Linked DNA regions of Homo sapiens. The protein of the gene in region 3 interacts with the protein of the main gene of each other region in a biochemical or structural test. Each region holds a gene or a part of one and is shown on either strand. Other genes may lie near its edges.

Evidence for each region.
Region 1: the proteins of NR5A2 (region 3) and HSP90B1 form a complex in vitro, tested with the Homo sapiens proteins (one study listed by BioGRID).
Region 2: the proteins of NR5A2 (region 3) and SREBF1 form a complex in vitro, tested with the Homo sapiens proteins (one study listed by BioGRID).

The regions. Positions count from the first base shown.
Region 1 is NC_000012.12:103,925,933-103,933,409, forward strand, and holds the start of HSP90B1 (endoplasmin precursor), read left to right. Parts: upstream 1-4,477; 5' UTR 4,478-4,583; coding exon 4,584-4,632; intron 4,633-5,588; coding exon 5,589-5,691; intron 5,692-6,344; coding exon 6,345-6,486; intron 6,487-6,893; coding exon 6,894-7,010; intron 7,011-7,477.
Region 2 is NC_000017.11:17,833,987-17,841,907, forward strand, and holds the start of SREBF1 (sterol regulatory element-binding protein 1), read right to left. Parts: upstream 3,001-7,921; 5' UTR 2,832-3,000; coding exon 2,741-2,831; intron 1-2,740.
Region 3 is NC_000001.11:200,023,274-200,030,765, forward strand, and holds the start of NR5A2 (nuclear receptor subfamily 5 group A member 2), read left to right. Parts: upstream 1-4,436; 5' UTR 4,437-4,574; coding exon 4,575-4,638; intron 4,639-7,492. UniProt on the Homo sapiens protein: Orphan nuclear receptor that binds DNA as a monomer to the 5'-TCAAGGCCA-3' sequence and controls expression of target genes: regulates key biological processes, such as early embryonic development, cholesterol and bile acid synthesis pathways, as well as liver and pancreas morphogenesis.

The DNA.
Region 1 (7,477 bases), on a different chromosome or scaffold from region 3:
TGTCTCTGAGTGACACTTTTTAAAATTTTCACTTCGATGTGTTTTTTAAAAGATTAGAGCAAAACTAGTGATTTTTATATATTTATCTGATAGCCAATAATTTACCAGATTCTCATATTATTCTATACTTTTTTTTTAAGGGGCTGGGCAGTGGCTCAACTCGAGGCAGATCACCCACCCACTTCCAAGATCCAACTATAAGCTTTTTAACTGCAGCAACTTAAGTATACGCTACTAGAACTGGAATTAATCATTCTATACTTAAAACAAAAAACCCTAGGGTCTCCTGGATTTCTGGGACATGCAATTGTCATCAGTAAGAAGGAATTTCAAAATAAAGGACTCCACCTTTTCTAAAATTTATGCCAATTACTTGATTTCCTTGTCTTGTTAAATCCTCCTAAATTGTGTGGGACATTACTAACCACAGCAAGCATCTGTGTCTGGTTCTTGATTTTTAGTGAAATGGCTTTTAGTGTTTTGTTGTTTAGAATGATAGTTGCTGTTAGTTTTCTTTAGTTGAGGTATACATAATAAAATTTAACCTTTTAAAGTGTACAGTTTGATGAGTTTTAACAACTACTGATATCAAGATCAAGAGCATTTCTGTCACCCCAAAAAGTTCCCTGGTACTCCTTTGCAGACATTCTTTTATATCTTTACTTCAGTTTAAATAAGATACTTGCACTTATGCTGTAACTCCATTGTTAATATTTGCACAAGGCTGGGCACAGGGGCTCACGCCTGTCATCCCAGCACTTTGGGAGGCGGAGGCAGGCTTGAGCCCAGGAGTTTGAGAACAGCCTGGACAACATAGGGAGACCCCATCTTTACAAAAGAAAAAAACCTCAACTTTGTTCATAATAAGCTCAAAGTATCCCTTTTTTTTTTCTTTTTTTTTTTTCTGAGACCGAGTCTCGCTGTCACCCAGGCTGGAGTGCAGTGGTGTGATCTCGGTTCACTGCAACTTCCACCTCCAGAGTTCAAGTGATTCTCCTGCCTCAGCCTCCTGTGCAGCTGGAATTACAGGTGCTTACCACCACACCTGGCTAACTTTTGTATTTTTTAAGTAGAGATGGTGTTTCACCATGTTGGCCAAGCTGGTCTCAAACTCCTGACCTCAAGTGATCAGCCCACCTCGGTCTCCCAAAGTGCTGGGATTACATGCCACTGTGCCAGGCCTACAAAAAAAAGTTTTAAGTTAGCCAGATGTTGGTGGCACATGCCTGCGGTCCAGCTACTCAAGAGGCTGAGATGGGAGGACTGCTTGAGCCCAGAAGGTCGGGCCTACAGTAAGCCATGATCCTGCCACTGCATTCCAGCCTGGGTAACAGAGCAAGACCCTGGCTCAAAAAAATATATTTTTAAAATTTAAATTTAAAAATTAAAAAAAACACATTTGCACAAGTTCTATATAAACAGAAACCATATCTATATTACTCACCCCTGTATTTCTAGCACCTAGCATAATTCCTGGCACATACTAGGCCCTCAACATTTGCTGAAATGATGAGTTAATTAATGAATAAACCAATCAACCAACCAACCAATTCACCTTGGAGCTTGGCTCTATTCCTTAATGTTCCCTGATGCCAATTGCTTTCTTGCCTTGGTCTCCCCAGTCTGCCTTCCCCCTGACTCCCCACTGCTGGACTACACCTGCCTACTAGAGAGCTATCCAGTGCCCTTAACTGCATTCCTTTACCTATTGGTTTTTCCTTCCGAGTTTAACTACAAAGTGGGGTGCTATCTAGTGGGGTTAGCTTTGCTCAAGGAGAAGCTTAACAACAACAACAACAACAGTAGCTGTTTCCAGCAATACATAGAGAAAAGCTAAAATTAGGACAAGGGAATCCGATACAAAGGCAGGAAACTTAATAACTATCTGGAGTGTTAGTTCTGGAGGAGCTAGGCCAAGATGGGAACTAGGTCAAAAGTCAGAAGAGGTGAAGAGACCACAGCGAGAAACAACAAAGCTGGGAATTAACTAAGCGGCCTATTCTCTTTACAAGGTACTCAGCCGGAGAGCCAATCTTTTTTTTTTTTTTTTTGAGATGGAATTTTTGCTCTTGTTACCCAGGCTGGAGTGCAGTGGCGTGATCTGGGCTCACTGCAACCGCCGCCTCCTGGGTTCAAGCGATTCTCCAGCCTCAGCCTCCAGAGTAGCTGGGATTACCGGCATGCGGCACCACGCCCAGCTAATTTTTGTGTTTTTAGTAGAGACGGGGTTTCGCCATGTTGGCCAGGCTGGTATTGAACCCCTGACCTCAGGTGATCCGCCCACCTCAGCCTCCCAAAGTGCTGGGATTACAGGCATGAGCCACCGCTCCCAGCCCAGAGAGCCAATCTTCAAGGGACAGAGTTGATCAGACAACGGCCCGCCATCTTATGCCAGCCTACCATCTTGTGCTCTGTCTGCCTCATGAATTCCCATCATCATCTGCAGAAACGTCTACCCACAAGCAGTGGCTCTGTTTTGAAGGATATGTCTCTGTCTCAGTTCTCTCCAGGTGCAGCACCAACTCCCCACCACTCACTAGTTAAGGTGGCATTTGCAGTTTCAGAACTGGTTGCTTACTTATTCAGAATTGGAGGAAAAGGTCAAGAAGTTGAGCTGTGAAATGCAGAAAAAAAAGTGAAGAAACTCAGTTTTCTCTCAAAACAAAAAATAAAGGAGTTAAAATATACAAAAATGCAACTGAAATCTCTGAATGTAATTCACACTCTAGTATGCTCTTTTAAAAAAAGATGAAAGCACAGAAGCATACATAAAGCATTCTTTGTAAGCTACTCTTTGCTTACTAATAACAAATGTAGGTAAATTGGGCAGATGTAAATAAGGCACCACCACAACACGTGAGCGCCAACCACAGAGCCAAGATCCGCACACTAAATACGGGAAGTTGTAAAAGACTGTGACAGACTGTCACTAAAAAACTTGTCTTCAGGAATTCGGACGATTATCTGAAAAGATATTCAAAGTTCAATTTTGTTGGAGGAAGCAATAAGGAAGTGGGGTGTCTATGTCAGAGACGGGCGCGGGTATGCGAGGGGGTAACGTATAGAGTAGGTTAAAGAGACGTAGAAAATATTTCCAAAGGCACAAGTTTAGCATGAGGGACTTCCCTCACAGGAAAGACACCTGGTGTTTTATATGTCCTTCTGAGCACAGACAGGGTATTTCTATGAAGTTACAAAGCTGCAATCCCGTTCTCATGTGCAGCACCACAGGTTTTGCTTTCAAATATCTGCAGGTGCATCCTCCTGCACTCGTTAAACTAAGGGTTTTCCTTTTCTGTGCTAGACCCGCTTTTACGACCACGCTCTCCACCTGATTCACAGAAAGGGTTCTACGACCGTCAGGTCACCGCCGCCTTTGTACTTTATTGGGGAGTCGAAGGCCTCAGCGCTGCTCGCGATTTCCCTAAGGTGGTCGGGAAGGTCCCAACCACGTTCTTCTGTAAACCAGATAAGGAAGGCCTGGGGATTCCGGCCGCGGAAAGGCACAGAGGAGGTGAACGCTCCGGCTGCCCAAGTGACGCACTTGTAGGCGGATTCGGAAACTCGTGCTCTTGAGCCGGAGGCGGAGCCCCCAGACTCAGACCGACCCCCCAGAACCGGGCGGCCTTGCCCGAGGCATGAAGGCTTTCTAGGCCCGCTTCTAAAAGCTGTGTACAATGGAGACTCCTGGAATAGGCACATATCTCTACTGTAATCAGAACGAGATGTAACATCTAAGACGCAGGGCAGGGCTCTGGCAAAGACACGCTGGGGGAACGTGAAAGAAAGGGCCAAAACTACGCAGCTGGTCCTCAGAGACCAAAGACTACGACCCCCAGCATTCAATGCAGTGAACCCCTAGGACGTTGCATGCCGGGAGCTGTAGTTTCTCACCACCGCCACCCCCCCGCCCCCCCGCCATCTGAAAGGGTTCTAGGGGATTTGCAACCTCTCTCGTGTGTTTCTTCTTTCCGAGAAGCGCCGCCACACGAGAAAGCTGGCCGCGAAAGTCGTGCTGGAATCACTTCCAACGAAACCCCAGGCATAGATGGGAAAGGGTGAAGAACACGTTGCCATGGCTACCGTTTCCCCGGTCACGGAATAAACGCTCTCTAGGATCCGGAAGTAGTTCCGCCGCGACCTCTCTAAAAGGATGGATGTGTTCTCTGCTTACATTCATTGGACGTTTTCCCTTAGAGGCCAAGGCCGCCCAGGCAAAGGGGCGGTCCCACGTGTGAGGGGCCCGCGGAGCCATTTGATTGGAGAAAAGCTGCAAACCCTGACCAATCGGAAGGAGCCACGCTTCGGGCATCGGTCACCGCACCTGGACAGCTCCGATTGGTGGACTTCCGCCCCCCCTCACGAATCCTCATTGGGTGCCGTGGGTGCGTGGTGCGGCGCGATTGGTGGGTTCATGTTTCCCGTCCCCCGCCCGCGGGAAGTGGGGGTGAAAAGCGGCCCGACCTGCTTGCGGTGTAGTGGGCGGACCGCGCGGCTGGAGGTGTGAGGATCCGAACCCAGGGGTGGGGGGTGGAGGCGGCTCCTGCGATCGAAGGGGACTTGAGACTCACCGGCCGCACGCCATGAGGGCCCTGTGGGTGCTGGGCCTCTGCTGCGTCCTGCTGACCTTCGGTGAGTGATTCTGGAGGAGCAGACGTCCCCCCTCCACACACGCGGCCGCTTCTCGAAGGTCCTGGGGGCGTTGAACGTGGGAGGGGGGATCCCGGGGCCTGCGGTGGGCCAAGGGACGTCACCATTCCTCGAAAGAGGGCAAGGGAATTACGTTTATTCTCTTCTTCCTCTGGAAATAAAAAAAGAGAGCAACATCATCTAACTGCCCTACAGATCTAATAGTATCTCGCCCGGAGGTCTCAGCGACCTCGGGGTGGGGCCTCTCTGAGGCTCTGGCTCCCCCGGGAGCTGTGCGAGTCCCTCCCCCCTCCCCGCCCGGAGGACTTTTTCGGCCACCGCAACCTTCGGCCATCCCAGCTTTCCCGTCCCCTAATTCCCCAGACTCCGACTCCTCGCAAGCCCGTGTCCCTTCTTAGATGCTGGCCTCGGGAGCGTGAGGCCTGGGGCCAGCGGAATGGCAGTGTCAGCGTGTTTGATTCAGTTTTGCTGGAGTTCGGTTCTTAACATTTCTCCCCCTTCTCATGCCTCTGGGCTCAATTTCAGTTCCCCTCGCCAGAGGTTGCATAAATCCTATTTGCATTCTGACCTGTGCTAACGAAGGCCGAAGTTTTGGCTTGATCAGTTGGGAGGCCTTGGCTCGGCCTGCGCGCAACACGTGTGGGTGTAGAAGAGGCCTGGTATCAGTCTGCTTAACGTTATTTATAAATGATCGGAGACACACTGTTTAGAAGTGGTGACTGCCTCCGTATTTCAGGATCTACTGGAGACTTCAGCATCTGAACTTAAATAGATGTTCTGTCTTGGCTTTACCTTTGGTATTTAAACCAGGGAATGCACTCTTTCATCCCCACCTCCCTTAGTTACCAACTGAATTTTGCAACCCCTACCCTTCCCTATTTGATCATCCTCCTTGGAGAAGTGTGATGTTGAAGAGTTTGCCCGTGTTAAATCTTCAGGGTCGGTCAGAGCTGACGATGAAGTTGATGTGGATGGTACAGTAGAAGAGGATCTGGGTAAAAGTAGAGAAGGATCAAGGACGGATGATGAAGTAGTACAGAGGTTTGTGTTCATTTGAACTTACGTATACAGATAAGCCGTGTGAACCTTGTGAGTTACGGTCACTTCTTATGTATCTCTTCTCCAAAGGTCCAGATAAAGTCTAACACCCTGTATTTAAATACCCGGTGAGTTGTGTGCATACATACCTCCTAACTTGTCCCTAGGAGTGATGAAAACTGAGTGAATTCCTTTGAAAACTATATTGCAGAATACTAGCACCATAAACTTTGTAAGACTTTATAGAAGATACTTTCAGTTGGATTTGTATTCATTAACTGTGTACACCGAGTAAGTTTAAAAATGGGATTTCTGTCAGTTGAACAATATTTTAAAATTTGGCCTCTTGGGACTTATTGACAGTTTTGAAGTCCTCACTGTGGAGCATAAATGAGTATGACTTTGCTTTTTAGTAGAGGAAAGTTGGGATTTTTTTTTTTCTGGCAATTTTAAGAACCGAGTATTTCCAGTGTAATGTTAAAGGTAGCCTACTGCTGTGCTAACATAATGAGACGGTATATCAGTTATATTTTATAAAGGTTTCCATTTTAACCCCCAAGACAATATTCAGAGGCCCCTGTGCTTTCATCATAATTCCTCTAGTTTTGAAGGGAACTATGCCATGCAATATTTGCTTACCTAACTGATTTCCTTAGAGAGGAAGAAGCTATTCAGTTGGATGGATTAAATGCATCACAAATAAGAGAACTTAGAGAGAAGTCGGAAAAGTTTGCCTTCCAAGCCGAAGTTAACAGAATGATGAAACTTATCATCAATTCATTGTATAAAAATAAAGAGGTAAGCAACATGTGGTTAGAATATTTTATCTCTGTATGGTGGCATACTTGTTTACTTAAATTTGCTTAATTTACTGCAAAAGTAATGTAGTATCCAAGTAAGTAGGTAACAACCTTTAAATACCTAATATGTCCAAGAATTGCTACCAGATATCTGGGAAGAAAGGGAGTGTCAGACATTTTCCTTTTCCTTTACCTCTAAATAGGTTCACGGCCTGATAATAGTTGTGAGTCTAAGGGCAGTCACATAAACTAAACTTCTTGCATTGCATACCTGAAGATCACTGTTAGGTGAATAAGAGTGCTTTTATAAGGTACAGAGAAGAAATAAATGGGTTTGGCATAAAATCGAATATCTTAATGCATCTTGAGGATAGTCTAAGTGTATTCCCTCTGGCTTCCATTTAGATTTTCCTGAGAGAACTGATTTCAAATGCTTCTGATGCTTTAGATAAGATAAGGCTAATATCACTGACTGATGAAAATGCTCTTTCTGGAAATGAGGAACTAACAGTCAAAATTAAGGTAAGTGTAAGGCAGTTTTTCTTTCTTTTAAAGGAAAAGGAATCCTTAAAGGTAGAGGATCCCTATCAGTCAAGATAGGCTAGATTATTTTGCAGTGGCAAAAAAACCCCAAGTCTCAGTGGCTTGAAAGTCATCAAACTATGGCCAAATCTAACTTGACTTGTTTTTCTAAGTAGTTTTATTGGAATGCAGCCATGCCCATTTGTTTATTATCTGTGACTGCTTCTGTGCTTCAACAGCAGAGTCAAGTTGTTTTAACAGAGAACATAAATCTCCCAAAGCCTAAAATATTTACTGTGTGGCCCTTTACAGAAAAAGTTTGCCAGCCCCTGGCTTAAATCATTGATCACAGGCTGCCTGTGGTCTTTGCTCTGCCTCATCCTCAGGCTGGGACAGAGGCGTGGGCAGCCACCTGGAGTGTGTAGCCGGTTGCCATGGTGCAGAGCAAGCTTAGAGGGTCTCATACT
Region 2 (7,921 bases), on a different chromosome or scaffold from region 3:
ATGAAGAGTGTGCACCCATCCCCAAACACATATAAACACACAGAGAGAGAGAGAGAGAGAGAAGAAAAGCTCTTTCACATAATTAGCAGGGCTTATCTCTGGGTGGTAGGTTTAAAGTTTTTTTTGAAACAGAATCTCACTCTGTCATCCAGGCTGAGTGCAACGGCATGGTTATAGCTCACTGCAGCCTCTAAGTCCAGGCTCAAGCAATCCTCCCACTTCAGCCTCCAGAGTAGCTGAGACTACAGGCACATGTCACCCACACCCAGCTAATTTTTTATTTTTGTAGAGACAGGATTTTGTCATGTTGCCCAGGCTGGTCTCAAACTCCTGGACACAAGTCATCCTCTTGCTTCGACCTCCCAAGTGCTGGGATTATAGGTGTGAGCCACCACCCCAGGTCTAAAGATTTTATTTTCTTCTTTTTGCTCACTTGCATTTTCTAAGTTTTCTACAATGAAAAAAGATGTGTGTAATTGGGAAGAAAAACAGGAAGTTTGAATAAAAACTGAAAAATCCTCTACTGAAGTGGGTAAAGCTGAGCCCTGCCTAGTGAGAAGGGGCTGCCCCCAGTCTTCAAGGGGCTGGGACTGCCCCCACTCTCTCATAGACTAGACCTTGGGCCACATGGCTGCCCATGCCTGGCCTTTGGTTCTGGAGAGACAATGTTTTTATCCATGAGTCAGTAAGAAAGGTCTGTATCAGACCTCTGGCCCAGACCAGATTCTGTCAGTAAGAAAGGTCTGGGCTGGGAGCGGTGGCTCACACCTGTAATCCCAGCACTTTGGGAGGCTGAGGCGGGCGGATCACAAGGTCAGGAGATCGAGACCATCCTGGCTAGCACAGTGAAACCCCGTCTCTACTAAAAATACAAAAAATTAGCCAGGCGTGGTGGCTGGCGCCTGTAGTCCCAGCTACTTGGGAGACTAAGGCAGGAGAATGGCGTGAACCCAGGAGGAGGAGCTTGCAGTGAGCCAAAATTGCGCCACTGCAGAAAACAAACAAACAAACAAACAAAGGTCTGTATCAGACCTGTGGCCCAGAACGGGTTCTGTTGTCCAACTTGCCCATGAAGGGAGGGTTTGCATCATTTTTCTGGAGGTGGAAACTAAGGTTTAGAGGGTGAGAGGGCTTGAGCAGGATGACAAAGGAAGTGAGGAGTGTCCAGGTTCAAGTTCTGACCCCAAAGCGCATGTCCTCCTGGCTTGGTCACGTTGCCTCTTGGGACTACACTCACTGGGCCCAGTGATGTGGAACTGGTAGTTGAGTCAGGCCCAGATCTCCCTAGGGCTTGGGATTTCAGGGTTCATCACTCCAGAGGGCAGTGAAGGACAACCCCTCGTGCCAGGGATAGGGGAGGCTGTTTTGGAAAAGCCTCACAATCAGGGCCTCTCCTCTGGGGTCCTCCCCTAGCCCAGCCCCAGGGGGAAGGAGGGAGGGCTGGGAAGCTTCTGGGGCTGGCAACCAGCTGGGCTCATCTGCAAGGCTGCAGTAGGGCAGGAGTGGTGGTGGCATAGATATATCTGTTTTGCCAACCCCAGGGTGGCCACGGGTTCCATGGACATGTCCATTCAGGCTGTGAGTCTAGGCATCTTGTTCCTGCGACCTTGGCCTCAGTTTCCTCATCAACCAAGTGCAACTTAGCTAGTGCTGCTAAAACTCCTGCACAGAAACCATGCAGGCAATTTGCTAGGGGCTTCCGTTTGCTCTATCTACAAAATGGAAGCAACGGGCCTCCTAATTGGCACTTGGTGCCACCATTGGCCCCAAACCCCTTCTCATCACAGCCAGGGTGATGCTCCAAAGATGGAAGCCGGTGCCACTGTTCTGCTCCGCCCTTTCCCTGGCCGACCAAGTCGGTTTGCGTCCTCCTCCTCCCTGACCTCACTCCTTTGCAAGCCTCTAACTCCTCACACTTAGGCCCTGCCTCGAGGCCTTTGCCCTTCCCTTGCCGTGGCCTGGAAAACATCTTTCCTTGCTGGTCCTGGGGGTGACCCTCAGGTCTCAGCTTAGAAGTCCCTGACCGCTCTACCCAAAGTAGCCACATCCCTGCCCTCCCCCAGCCTCGCTCCACCCAAGGTACAACTAAATACCCGTTTGGTTTCCCGGGAGATTTTTGTGTTCCCTAAAAGAGGGGGTACCCAGGTCTGTCTGTAAACCCTCGGTGCCTAAGACGGGGCCTGGCATTCGGTGGATGTCAGTGAATGAGTGCGGAGGCTGTGCCCGTCGCAGACCGGGAGAACCCGACACGAGGCGGGGGAAGGGCGCGAGGCAGCGCCCATGCGCATGCGCAAGAGCTCCGACGCCGAGCTGAACTCTCGGGCCGGAGGGAATGACCGTGAGTAACCTCGCAATTACGTCACGGCTGGGGCTGGGGCGGAGCTTCGGCGACGCCTGGGTCCCCAGCTTCAGCCGTGGCCATCACAGGGCTGGAGAGTCACCGGTCGGGCGGCACCCGGCCTGGGACGCGTAGAGGCGCACGTGTCCCGGCCCGGAGCCGCCAAGGGACCCCGGCCCGGCCCAGGAGCCCTCACCCACAAGCGCGCGGCCCGAGACGCTAGCGCGGGAACCAGGGAGGCTCGGTGAGGCTCGGGACACCGAGCTCAGAGACACCGGGAAGTCCCGCGCGAGCACAGCACGGAGCTGGCGCCCGTGGGGGAGACAAAGGCCAGGGAGACACCTGCGCGCCCCCTACTCGCGCCACCCGGCGCAGCTTCAAGCCCTGCCCGCCCTGACGCACCTTCGATGTCGGTCAGCAGCGCCGCGTCCAGATCGCACGGCTCGCCCAGCGCCTGCTCCAAAGCCGCCTCGCTGAAGGGTGGCTCGTCCATGGCGCAGCCGCCTCCTCCGGGAGGCCCGCCGGGCCCGCCGCCTCGTACGGCCCTTCCTAGGGAGCGCCGCCGCGGCCCCGGCTCTCAGTCGCCGCCGCCGCTCCGCGCGTTCGTGTCCTGCCCTGGCCTCAGAGGCGGCCCGGCGCCGGCGAAAAGTTCCTCGGAAACTGGGTTCCCCCGGCCGCAGCTCTGCTGGGCGGTCGAGGCGGAGGCGGGGCCTTTCGGGGAGGACCCGCCCTCCCAGATAGACGGCCCCGCCCCACCTTGAGAGAGCGGGGGACCCCTGATCCCCGGTCTGCGCCACAAATCTCCCCTCAGCCGGCCCCTCCTCCAGAGCGCCCTCCAGTCATTCATTTTATCCAGCCTCGCGCACAATGGCAGCGGCCTCTGGCCGGCTGCTGCGGGAACGCGGGCAAGCCGAGCCCCCTCTCTGGGCCTCTGTTTCTCCAGCACCAAGCAAGGAAGCCGAGTGGAAGCCCCAGGCCTGGGCCCATCCCAAACTTCATTTCCTCATTTCCTAGATTTGACTCTTTAGAACAAGACAGACCAGGATCCAAGTTATAGGGGTCCCAGGCCTGCTGTGTTGTGAGCAGGCCTGATGTAACTGCTGGGCCAGTTACATCACTCTGCCTCAATTTTCCTCATTTGTAACATGGGCCTAATGATGCTTTCTCACGGGCAGGCTGGGAGGCTAGTGACAATGTGGAGGGGAGCATGACCTGTGAGATCAGCCTGCCCCCTCTCTGCAAAGAAACCAGAAGATTGGCCTCTTGAGGACAGGAGTGGCCAAAGAAAGAGGCTGGAATTTCGTCATCTGGTTTCCTCCCAGATCCAGCTGTAGGGATAGGATACCAGTGGGCCCAGTGCAGCTCCTGAAGGAGGAAGCCAGTACCCAAGGAAGACTGGCCCCAGGGCTGTCTGACCCCAGATTTGGCACTTATTCCCAGGAGCAGCCAGGATAGGGGCCGCAAGGAAGAGGTAGCTGTGCTTTAGATCAGAGCCAGGCTGCCCTGGATCATCACAAGCTGGGACTAGATCAGAGCAGGCAGCCCTGTTGAGAAGAGGGCTGGAAACCGAACCTGGTTCTGTGGCCTAGGGACAGAGCCAGGTGGGGCAGGAAGGAGGGAAGGGGTCCCAATGAGGTGGGTTGAAATAAACCAGAATTAACATTCAGGAATCTGAATGTGATAAGGCAGTGAGCTCCCTGTCCCCAGAGGTATGCAAGCAGAGAGAAGCACCCTTGGTGGAGGGCAGTCCAGGAAACTCATCAGGGGCCTGGGCCTCAGGCCTTCCCGACCCCAGACCTTCATAAGTCAAGCCATCCTGCAGACTGCCTTGCTCAAACTCCAGATATAGCCTATCTGGCCACGCCCTAAGCAGGAGTAACATTCATGATGCATTTTAGAAGGGGTGTGTGGGGGAGAGAAGCCACAGAGCCCAAGTCCCTGGGGCTCAGCCTGGACATCCAGCTCCCTTTGTTCCTCTCCCAGAAGTGGCTGCGGTGGAAAATTACCCAGAATAGCGGCGCCAGAAGTCATAGGGGTCGCCAAACCACATCTCCCCAAGTAGCCCTGCTCAAGGGTCCACCCAGGACCCACTCCCTCCAGATGAACAACTGCTGGAGAACACAGAGAACAAAGCTGGCTTCTCCTCAGTGCCCCACCCCCACCAACACTCTAGAGGCTGCAGGAAGCTGGTGACTTCCCTGAAAATTTAAACAGCCCTTCCCAGGGAGGGGGTGGGATAGGAAGTGCTGGGTGAAGCCTAAATACCATTTTCTTCAGAGCTAGGCAGGTGATCTGGGTTTTCACCTGCTTGCTGTGTGACCTGGATCCAATACCTCACTTCTGAGTCTCAGCTACTGTATCTATAAAATGGGAATAACCCTTTCTGCAGTCCCTCTGCAGAGGCAGGGAGGGTGTTTTGGAGTCATCATCACAACAGATCTGCCTCACTGTTTTTTGTTTTGTTTTGTTTTGTTTTTTGTTTTGAGACAAAGTCTCTCTCTGTCACCCAGGCTGGAGTGCAGCGGCATGATCTCGGCTCACTGCGACCTCCACCTCCCAGGTTCAAGCAATTCTGTCTCAGCCTCCTGAGTAGCTGGGATTACAGGCGCACGCCACCATGCCAGGCTAATTTTTGTATTTTTAGTAGAGATGAGGTTTCACCATTTTGGCCAGGCTGGTCTTGAACTCCTGACCTTAGGTGATCCACCTACCTCGGCCCCCCCAAAGTGCTGGGATTGCAAGTGTGAGTCACTGCACCTGGCTATCACTGTTTTTGTTGTTGTTGTTGTTGTTGTTGTTGTTGTTTTTAAGACAGAGTCTCGCTCTGTTGCCCAGGCTGGAGTGCAGTGGCACAATCTTGGCTCACTGCAACGTCGGCCTCCCGGGTTCAAGCATTTCTTTTCCCTCAGCCTCCCGAGTAGATGGGATTACAGTCATGCACTACCACGCCCGGCTAATTTTTGTATTTTTAGTAGAGATGGGGTTTTGTCATGTTGGTCAGACTGGTTTCGAACTCCTAGCCTCCAGTAATCTACCCACTTCGGCTTCCCAAAGTGCTCGGATTACAGACGTGAGCTACTGCACCCAACCCGCCTCACCGTTTTTAAATGGGTTACCACATATGTAAATAGAATAGCTCAATAAATATTCACTCCATAACTGCAGGAGTTAGGGGAAAGGGAAAGAAGGTAAGACAAGGTCAACAGAAGACCTGCACCCCAGAAAATCCAACCCCCATGGGGCACAGTCCAACGTGGGGGTGGGAAGAATTTACATCTTTGCCACCAAAGAAACAAATCTTTGCCCCACAGCCTGGGATTACCAGGGCAACCCTCAACGTGAGGGTAGGGGAAAACAGAAGAGGGGATCCATTTTTCAGGGGGAACATGCTTGTCTTGGCAGTTTCTCTCCTCAAAGATCCTGAGACCTCCAAACAAGACCCTCGGGCCCCGGTTGGCTGGGGAGCGTTGAGCACGCCCAAGGAACGTGGACACAAGCCCCTCTGTAATGGTGTGCCTATCAGGGGTCAGGGATCCAGCCTGGTCCACGGTGACCCCGGCGGGCAGGTTCGGCACAGTTTACTTGCTGAGCGCTTACAGAGTGTTCAGTGCGGTTTAAACCCATTCACTCCTCTCGACAGCCTCAGGCGGTTGAGGCTGTTACCATCCCATTTTACAGATGAGTAAATTGAGGCACGTGGAGCGGGACGGTGAAGCGACTTGCTCAGGACCTCACAGCACTGCTGCCCCTGGTTTTGTCTGGACTGGAGGTAGCCGGAGAGCCGGGGCGGCTCCGCACGCGCGCGGGCCAGGGCAGCGGCTGGAGACCCAGGGGAGCCGGGGCGCAGAGCCAGACCAGCCCCGCCCCCGCGGGCCCGGCGCAGCCAATGGGCGCCCGGCCCGGAGTGGGGTGACGCGGCGTCAGCGCGTAACTCCCGGGAGCCCAGCCCTGGGTCACATGCGCCGCGCCCGCTCTACCCGGGAGGTAGGGAGGGGCGGCGGGGACAGGCTGGGCTCAGCCCCCAGTCCAGACACCTGGCCAGGAATGCCGCCAGGTGCGCGTCCCGGGCACCGGAAGGGCTAACACGGGACAGCCCCACCCGGGACTGCGTGGCGCGCCCAGAGCGGAGGATTCCTTCCAGGTCACCCAGCCCGGCCCCTGCCCGACCTCGGCGTTGCCAACTGGGAGATAGGAATTCGCATCTCCCCGCTTCCTCTCCAAGCCTCTTAGAGACTGAGAGGCAGCTTCTGTGGGTTTCGAGCCTTTTCGGGCAGGCGTCCAGCACGGGCAGGGCCTCTTCCAGGACGCTTGTCCTGTCCAGCCATGCCCTCGGTGCCCGGAGCTCAGCCGTGGATGGCAGGGCAGGCACTGGGCAGGAAAACTGGGTTGTCCACTCTAGCCATTGCCTAGGCTACTGAAACCCCTCCCCACTCCCAGAGCCCCCCTGCCCCCCTGCCCCCCTGCCTGGCCCTGCATATCCTTCACTGCTGTGGGAGCCAAGCTGGGACCTGCCCAGGTTATGGCAGAGGGGCCAGGCTGTGGGAAGAGACTGCTCAGAGCCTGAGTCTCCCCTCCCCCACTTCTCCATCTGTATATAATGGGGTCAGATGACTGTTGACATGGGTGATTCTGGTCCTAGATGACGCTCGTGGTCTCATTCCAGCTTGGGCTCTGTGGTGAGCTGGGCGAGTTCTTTCCAGCCCTCTCTGAGCCTCCATGGCCAGCTTTGCCCCTGGAGGCTCACACCCATGTGGGCACCTGCAGGCTTATCATGAGTCACTGAACACACCCTCTACCAAAGAGCTACTTGAACCCCAAAGATTGCTGCACAGTGAGGGGTGTAGCTCACAAAGGCTGAGGAAGACTGATACCTGTTCCCTGGGGGGTAACTGGCTGTTTGAGGAGAGGCCAATTGCATATTGAATGGGGTGAGTCTAGCCGGCAACAGGGAGAGTGAGGAAATCAATGTAATAAGGCCCCTGTGGGCATTGGGTTTACCACCCACTACACCAGTTTACCGATCAGGAGAGTAAAGAACAGAGTGAGACAGTGACTTACCCAACACCTACAGTTAAGCCTGCAACCCTAGGGAGGAATGGGGTGGACAGGAAATGGCACCAGACAATGGAGTCCACTCAATTTCCGGAAGCATCCTACTTACTCCCTAGTGCTGAGAGTAGAGATTTTGCGTCCTGGAATGTTGAGGGCCTGGGCTTGGAGGCCCTGGACAGACTCCTCTGAGGTCTGCCCCAAAAGCTCTGACAGGGACTCCTGTAAAATAAACTGATGGCATTTCTGGGTGGGTCATGCAGACCTGTCCAAGGCCTCAGGTTCTGCCCTCCCGCTGCCCCCAGGACCCAAAGGAGACCTTTTTCTTGGAAAAACCACAGGCTCCCACAATGCTTCCCTCAAGTGTGCAGCTTGAGTGCCCTGGGGCTCAGCTATGTGCTCAGAGCCTCCTCTCCTGCAGGCCCTGGAAGAGAGCTACAACACTTAACTGGCTGCAGAGTGTCCTTGACTCTGGGAATAGAACCAGGCTGCACATTCCCCAAGGGCAGGACTGGAGCAGCCCTGTCCCTCCCC
Region 3 (7,492 bases):
GTGCTAGGATTTCAGGTGTTAAGCCACCGTGCCCAGCCACAAATCACTTTATGATGCTGTTTAATTATATGAATCCTATGAGGTCTTCTATAAGGTCTCTAATAGTGTATGTGACTAGGATAGAACTGGTGTCAGAAACAAAACCCAAAAACAGAAACTTTCGTATGTCTTCTAAAATTCCACTAAGGAAGATGTGTCTTTCACTTAAGATCCCAAGTCACAAAGCCCATAATCACTTTTTTTTTTTTTTTTTTGAGATGGAGTGTCACTTTGTCACCCAGGCTGGAGTGCAGTGGCACGATCTTGGCTCACTGCAACTTCCGTCTCCTGGGTTCAAGCAATTCTCCTGCCTCAGCCTCCAGAGTAGCTGGGATTACAGGCGTGTACCACCTTGCCCAGTTAATTTTTTGTATTTTTAGTAGAGACAGGGTTTCACCATGTTGGCCAGGCTGGTCTTGAACTCCTGATGACAAGTGATCCACCTGCCTCAGCCTCCCAAAGTGCTGGGATTACAGGTGTGAGCCACTGCGCCCAACCTCCATATTCACTTTTGATGACACGTTGAGTACTTTCTTTCTCTGACATGATACTGAGTACTTTATTTCTCATTTACATCTTACCACAAAAACTACTGGATTTCATCATTTTTGTCATTTTTACTTATGAGGAATTCAAGCCTTAAAAAAGCCAAGCATTACTTTGCCACCAAGAAGGAGGCAAAGTACAAATGGAAGCCCTGAGCTTTCTGACCTCAAATCCTAGGCTCTTAACCACCCTGCTACCCTGCCTTCATTCTTACCATGATCTCATAATTTGTGCTTATATAGGCTGCATTCAGCAACCCAAACTGACTGGTTTCCTCAGGAAAACTGTCAGAGCTACAACCAGTGCATTGAGAGGATCCGATGGACTATGTAATTTTATGGACTGAATGATATGAAAGGCCTCAGGAAATGTGTATCCAACACTTTGGCAGGTGTAAAAGAAGACCTACATATTTCAAAGCAGTTACAGATGCAAAATACGTCCATAGAAATATATGTTCCACACACTTGGAAGGCTAAGGCAGGAGGATCGCTTGAGCCCAGGAGTTCGACACCAGCCTGGGCAACATGGTGATATACTGTCCCTACAAAAAAATACAAAAATTAGCTGGGCCTCATGGCTCACACCTGTAATCCCAGCACTCTGGGAGGTCGAGGTGGGTGGATCACCTGAGGTCAGGAGTTTGAGACCATCCTGGCCAACATGGTGAAACCCCATCTTTACTAAAAATACAAAAATTAGCTGGGCGTGGTGGTGGGTGCCCGTAATCCCAGCTACTTGGGAGGCTGACATAGAAGAATCACTTGAACCCGGGAGGTGGAGGTTGCAGTGAACCGAGATCATGCCACTGCACTCCAGCCTGGGTGACAGAGTGAGACCTTGTCAAGAAAGAAAGAAGAAAGAAAAGAGAAAGAAGGAAAGAAGGAAAGGAAGGAAGGAAGGAAGGAAGGAAGGAAGGAGAGGGGGAAGGGAGGGGAGGGGCGAGGGGAGGAGGGGAGGGGAGAGGAGAGGAGAGGAAAGGAGAGGGAGAAAAAGAGAGAGAGAGAGAGAAAGAGAGAGAGAGAGAAGATGGGGAAGGTCCCTTCTGGGTTTCCATCTAAAATCAAAGAAGAAATCATTGGTTTCAATAATAATATTTTAAAATCCACCCTATGATTTTTTTTTCTTTAAAAGAAAAATATCAATCTAAGAAAATAATACCTAACATGGTGTTAATGAAAAGTAGGTTGGATTGGTTATGTGTACATAAGAACTTAAAGCTCAAAGGAAAAACAGCACGTATACCAGCATGTTGACCTGGCTCCGCTGACAGCCAGGATTACCAGTTATTTCACTTGGTGTGTACCAGTGCTACTTGGAAACTACCCACCTTCCATGAGCAGGTCTACTCAATAAAATCTTACTTTCATGAGGCTGTGAGGATATCCAAATGGGGACATTTCTTATACTCAGAAGACCACAAGTCACGAATGTGGCCACTTCTGATTCTGACTTCAGGGGTCACCCAGACCCCAAGCCACCCCAACCCGATAAAGGCAAGTTCACCTTGGGCAAAGTTCAGAGCCAGCAGCACAGCTGAAAGGCAGTGGACAGCACTTTCAGATGCTGTATTCCAACATTTCAACTGACATGAAGTGAGGCAAGAGGGGAAATAACTAACAGTAATCTGATTAAAAAACAAAAGAGAAAAAAAAAAGGGCCTGGTGTGGTGGCTCATGCCTGTAATCCCAGCACTTTGGGAGGCCGAGGCGGGTGAATCACCTGAGGTCAGGAGTTCGAGACCAGCCTGGCCAACATGGCAAAACCCCATCTCTACTAAAAATACAAAAATTAGCCGGGCATGGTGGCACGTACCTGTAATCCCAGCTACTAGGGGGGCTGAGGCAGGAGGATTGCTTGAACCTGGGAGGCGGAGGTTGCAGTGAGCCAAGATTGTACCACTGCAGTCCAGCCTGGGCAATGGAGCAAGACTCTGTCATTAAAAAAAAAAAAAAAAAAAGGACTGGCCTGGGTTTACAGGTAGCTCACACCTGTAATCTGAGCACTTGGGGAGGCTGAGGCAGGAGGACTGCTTGAACCCAGGAGACCAACCTGGGCAATACAGCAACACACTGTCTCTACAAAACATTTAAAAAATTAGCTGGGTGTGGTGGTACACATCTGTAGTCCTAGTTACTCAGGAGGCTGAGGCAGGAGGATTGCTTAAGTCCATGAGTCTGAGGTTGCAGTGAGCTATGACTGTGCCACTCCATTCCAGCCTGGGTGACAGAGTGAGATCCCATCTCTAAATAAATTAATAGACCATAAATTCTGTAATGTGAATCTTTAGACAAAGACTGCTAAATCTATCATCTGATATATGAAGTTTTATTACAACAAATGTTTATATATTGAGTTAAAAATTATCTGTACCCATACACACAACCTGCATTTACTTAATTTAAAAGGAGTGTCAATATTAAAATTGAGGATTTTGGCCAGGTGCGGTGGCTCACGCCTATAATTCCAGCACTTTGGGAGGCCGGGTAGATCATTTGAGGTCACAAGTTTGAGACCAGCCTGGCCAACACGGTGAAACCCCGTCTTGACTAAAAATGCAAAAATTAGCCGGGCATGGTGGTGTGCCCCTGTAATCCCAGCTACTGGGGAGGCTGAGGCGGGAGAATTGCTTGAACCCGGGAGACAGAAGCTGCAGTGAGCCGAGATCGTGCCACTGCACTCCAGCCTGGGCAACAGAGCGAGAACCCATCTCAAAAAAAAAAAATTGTTATTTTGTTGTTATTGTTGTTTTTGAAGACAGAGTCTCACTCTGTTGCCCAGGCTGGAGTGCGGTGGCATGATCTTGGATTGTGTTCTTCCAGGGTTGCAGAGAGAAGTGCAACAGCGTCTCATTGCAACCTCTGCCTCCCAGGTTCAAGCAATTCTCCCGCCTCAGCCTCCCAAGTAGCTGGGATTACAGGAGTGCACCATCACACCCAGCTAATTTTTGCATTTTTAGTAGAGATGGAGGTTTCACCATGTTGGCCAGGCTGGTCTCGAACTCCTGACCTCAGGTGATCCGCCTGCCTTGGCTTCCCAAAGTGCTGGGATTACAGGTGTGAGCCACCATGCCCAGCCTAAGAATAATAACTTTATAACTATGAAAAATGTGTTACATATTCACCATTTTGCCAGCATTAATCTCAAAGCATAAGTTTTACCTTTTGGGGATAAAGAGATAGATTGTGTTTTAGCCATATGACCAATGTAGAAACAAGCTAAGGTTAACTCCTCATCTAATGAATAGGCCCGATAAAAAAGTTGGTTGACCACAACATGAATAAATAAATAACCATAAGCTTGGAAATGCTACCTGTAGTATTTCAGAGTGTCGATCACATTTGTAGTCATCACTTAAAGAATTAATGTCTGCCAATGTTATCATCTAAAATGTATTTACAGAGGTCAGAAGAGCTATGTCTGTCCTCCTCTATGCAAAGAGGTGATGACATCAAGGGGTATGTCACAAGCCAAAGTTTAGTTAGCCTAAGTTAGTTAGCTGGTTTGCAGTTTTTATCCACTAAGTCTGATCTTCTGACCCCTCAGTTTTACAACTTTCCACTCTCTGTGCTGCATAGCACCTCTCCACTTCTGAGTTAATCATTTCTTTGCCATTATCTGGCAAGAATTCTTATCTCTTTTGCTGTCACTTTATAACAGGGTCCTCTTATCAACCTGCATAGAGTCATGTGATGAGTCAAAGCCTATCAAAAGTTTCCATTCTTCTGATTAGAAACCATCATGAAACTGGATACATGGTTTACAGCAGGTCACTAATGTTGGAAAAAGTACAGAGTCCAGGGAAAGACTTGCTTGTAACTTTATGAATTCTGGATTTTTTTTTTTCCTTTGCTTTTTCTTAACTTTCACTAAGGGTTACTGTAGTCTGATGTGTCCTTCCCAAGGCCACGAAATTTGACAAGCTGCACTTTTCTTTTGCTCAATGATTTCTGCTTTAAGCCAAAGAACTGCCTATAATTTCACTAAGAATGTCTTCTAATTCAGATACTGGGGATTTACAAGAGTCTTTAAAGCACGGACTTACACCTATTGGTAAGTAGGAGTTTCTCTATTGATCATCTATTTATTCTGCTACTACATACATATAATTTAATCTTGTTGATGGATTTTGCATTTTAAGTCATGGCTTTTCCTATTATGTTTATTAAAAGCACACAATAAGCCTATGTATATATATCACACATTTATCTTTCTTGCAGTTCAAAAAAAGCAAATGGATATTTCAACATATGAATATTATTCATTATATCTAGTGTTTACTGGTGTCATTCTAATACCCTAATCAGCCAGAAAATATAATTTATACTTTATCAATTTCAACTTTAATATTTTCTGATAATTTTTAATCAGAAATAATAAGCTAAAATTTGAACAATTTGAAACAAGTTAATCATATTGAGTGATCATTGATCAAACTTTAACAGATAGCTGTCAAGTATTTGTTACTTTTCAACCCACACAAAAGTATGGTGTCTTATTCTCTGCTTATACCGTAAAAAATTTTCATTTTATTTTCCTGGGGAATGAAAGTCATGCCCCCACCTCCAAAAAAAAAAAAAAAAAACCAAAAAAACTAGACCATCATTAGTAAAGGATTTGAAGAGCTACTGTTTCTCGCAACAATTAGTATATTTTGTTTTTACAAACAGAAATAAGTAAATAAAGCTACTATTCATTTAAAAAATAGAGTTACAAACTTATGAATTTTATAGCAAGACTACATTCAATTAATTCTAAAAGTAAAGGACTGAAGGGAAGTGATTCCCAGTGATCTGTAATTATTTGTCTGTTGGAAGTCAGGCCCTTCTGCCTTTCCCCAGTTTTTGAAGGACCTGTGCCTTTTCTGGCAGCATTTGCCTAGGCTTTCAGACTGGAATTTCCCTCCGAATTTGCAGGGGCCTGTCATGAGCTCTCTGAGTCTCAGCTCCATTATAACAAGAAAGAAAATCAAGGCTTGAGTTTTTCCTCTTTTTTCCTTCCTAGTCAGCTGACTCCACAGAATGCAGTGGAGTCACAGATTGCTTTTTTTATGGGCCAACTACACCCTAAAGTATATCACTTGAGGAAATGTTTACCAAAAATGTTCTATACTTACGAAAAAGAAAACATGGGGAAGGTAAGCAGGGTGTAACACACAATCAATTGTTCTGCAGATAACACAGAAAATACAGGCACAAGAAAGATGAGAGAGCAGCACACAACCATTTCGCATCTTTTTCGTCGGGCAGAACCGCCGCGGTGCGCAGGCAAGGAGTCCTTCCCGGCAGCTCCGCGCAGCTCCGGTTCCGCGTCCGGGGCCGCAGCTAGAGCGCGCTCGGGCCGGAGACGCGGACTGCGCGCGCACGGGGGACGCGCGCTCGGGGGCTCGCGCCCGCGCGGGCGGTCTTGGGCTCCTGCTGCGCGCAGCCCCAGCTGGCCGCTGCCAAAATAGAGTTGAGCTGGGTCGGGAGACCACGCACGCCGATCCCTCACAGTCTCCCCCACACCCCATGGGTGAATTAAAGAGGGTAAGGTAGGGGAAAGAGACGCTGTTGCACTTTTCTCTGCAACCCTGGAAGAACTGTGTTTCCAGCTACCGCACGCGCAACTCACATCGCAAGGGACCGAGGCGGTACACTCTGAGCGTAAACAGAGAACACCTGCAGCTCTGGAATCGGTCCCACCGCAGAGGGCTGGGAACCGGAGGACTGTCGGTCCAGCCCATAAGGGGCTGCTGGGGACTAAACCTCAAGAAAAGTACCGAAGAAGGCTCTCCCCTGGCCTCAGCGAGACTACCCCAACATCCTAAACCTGTGCAGGCACTTCCGGGCGCCGGATTCCGGGATAACAAAATTCCAGTCAATTTGCCGGTAAAAGAGACCTCTTTCAGGATCTTGTTCGCAGCCACCCGCCCCTTCCCAACCCAAGCACATCCCCTCCGCCTCCTGGTATTGCAGCCCCGCAGGTGGTTGTGAGGTGTCCGCACCTGCAACATCTTAGTGACCCTGAGGCGGCTGTGGCACCGGGAGACAATCTGTTTACCTCGTAGCCTCCACGAGGGTGCTAACGGTCGTTCCCAGGGTGAATGGCTGGACGGAGCCATCCAAAGGGCTGAGGGAGAGGAACAGAGGGCGGTGAGGAGCCTTCGGACTGAACTATTGGATTGAAGGGCCTGACCCGATTCCTGAGGGAGAGATGCCCCTTGAATGGGTCTTTCTGATTGCCCAGGGTAGCCCCACTGGGAAGAACCCACGGGTGCAGCTGTAGAGAGTGTCTGAGGGTCTCGAGGGTAGCTTTCAGATGGCAAATTGCAAGTTGGGCTGTGTTGAGTGGTTCACAAAACCGAGCCCGGTGTATGTAGACATCAGTCAGGGTTTACAATTCTATATTTAATTCAGTTGTGTTGTACTAGGAAATGAGCCTCCTTTTGTTTAAAAAGCTGTCTCCATGGTTTTTAACTAGGGGCTACATCTTGTATGCACACTGATGGTTACATGAAAGTTTTGTATAGATGTCTGTGCTTGTATAGAAAAGCAGAATTAAGATAAAGTTGTTCCTTCTGCCTACCTGCAAGATAATCATTCATTGTAGTGTAAAAGCAGCACACTCAGGTTATAACTAGATTGTTCCCTTAAAGTTAACTAACTCTGGGACACTGGCCAGACTCTTGGTTTCTGGTCTTGGTTTACTTCTTTCTCCCAAGTGGGATGATTCTATTGAATAATATGCAGTACTAACTTTAGAAGCTTTTTATACTTACCTATATCAAGAAAAGAGCCATATCTGTGTGGTAGGAAATGTTATACATAAAACAAATATTTATTGACCACTCCCACAGTGCCCAATATTATGCTTTGATTCATATTAAATTTCCATAATTCTTCAAATTAACTGCATTTGCAGAATA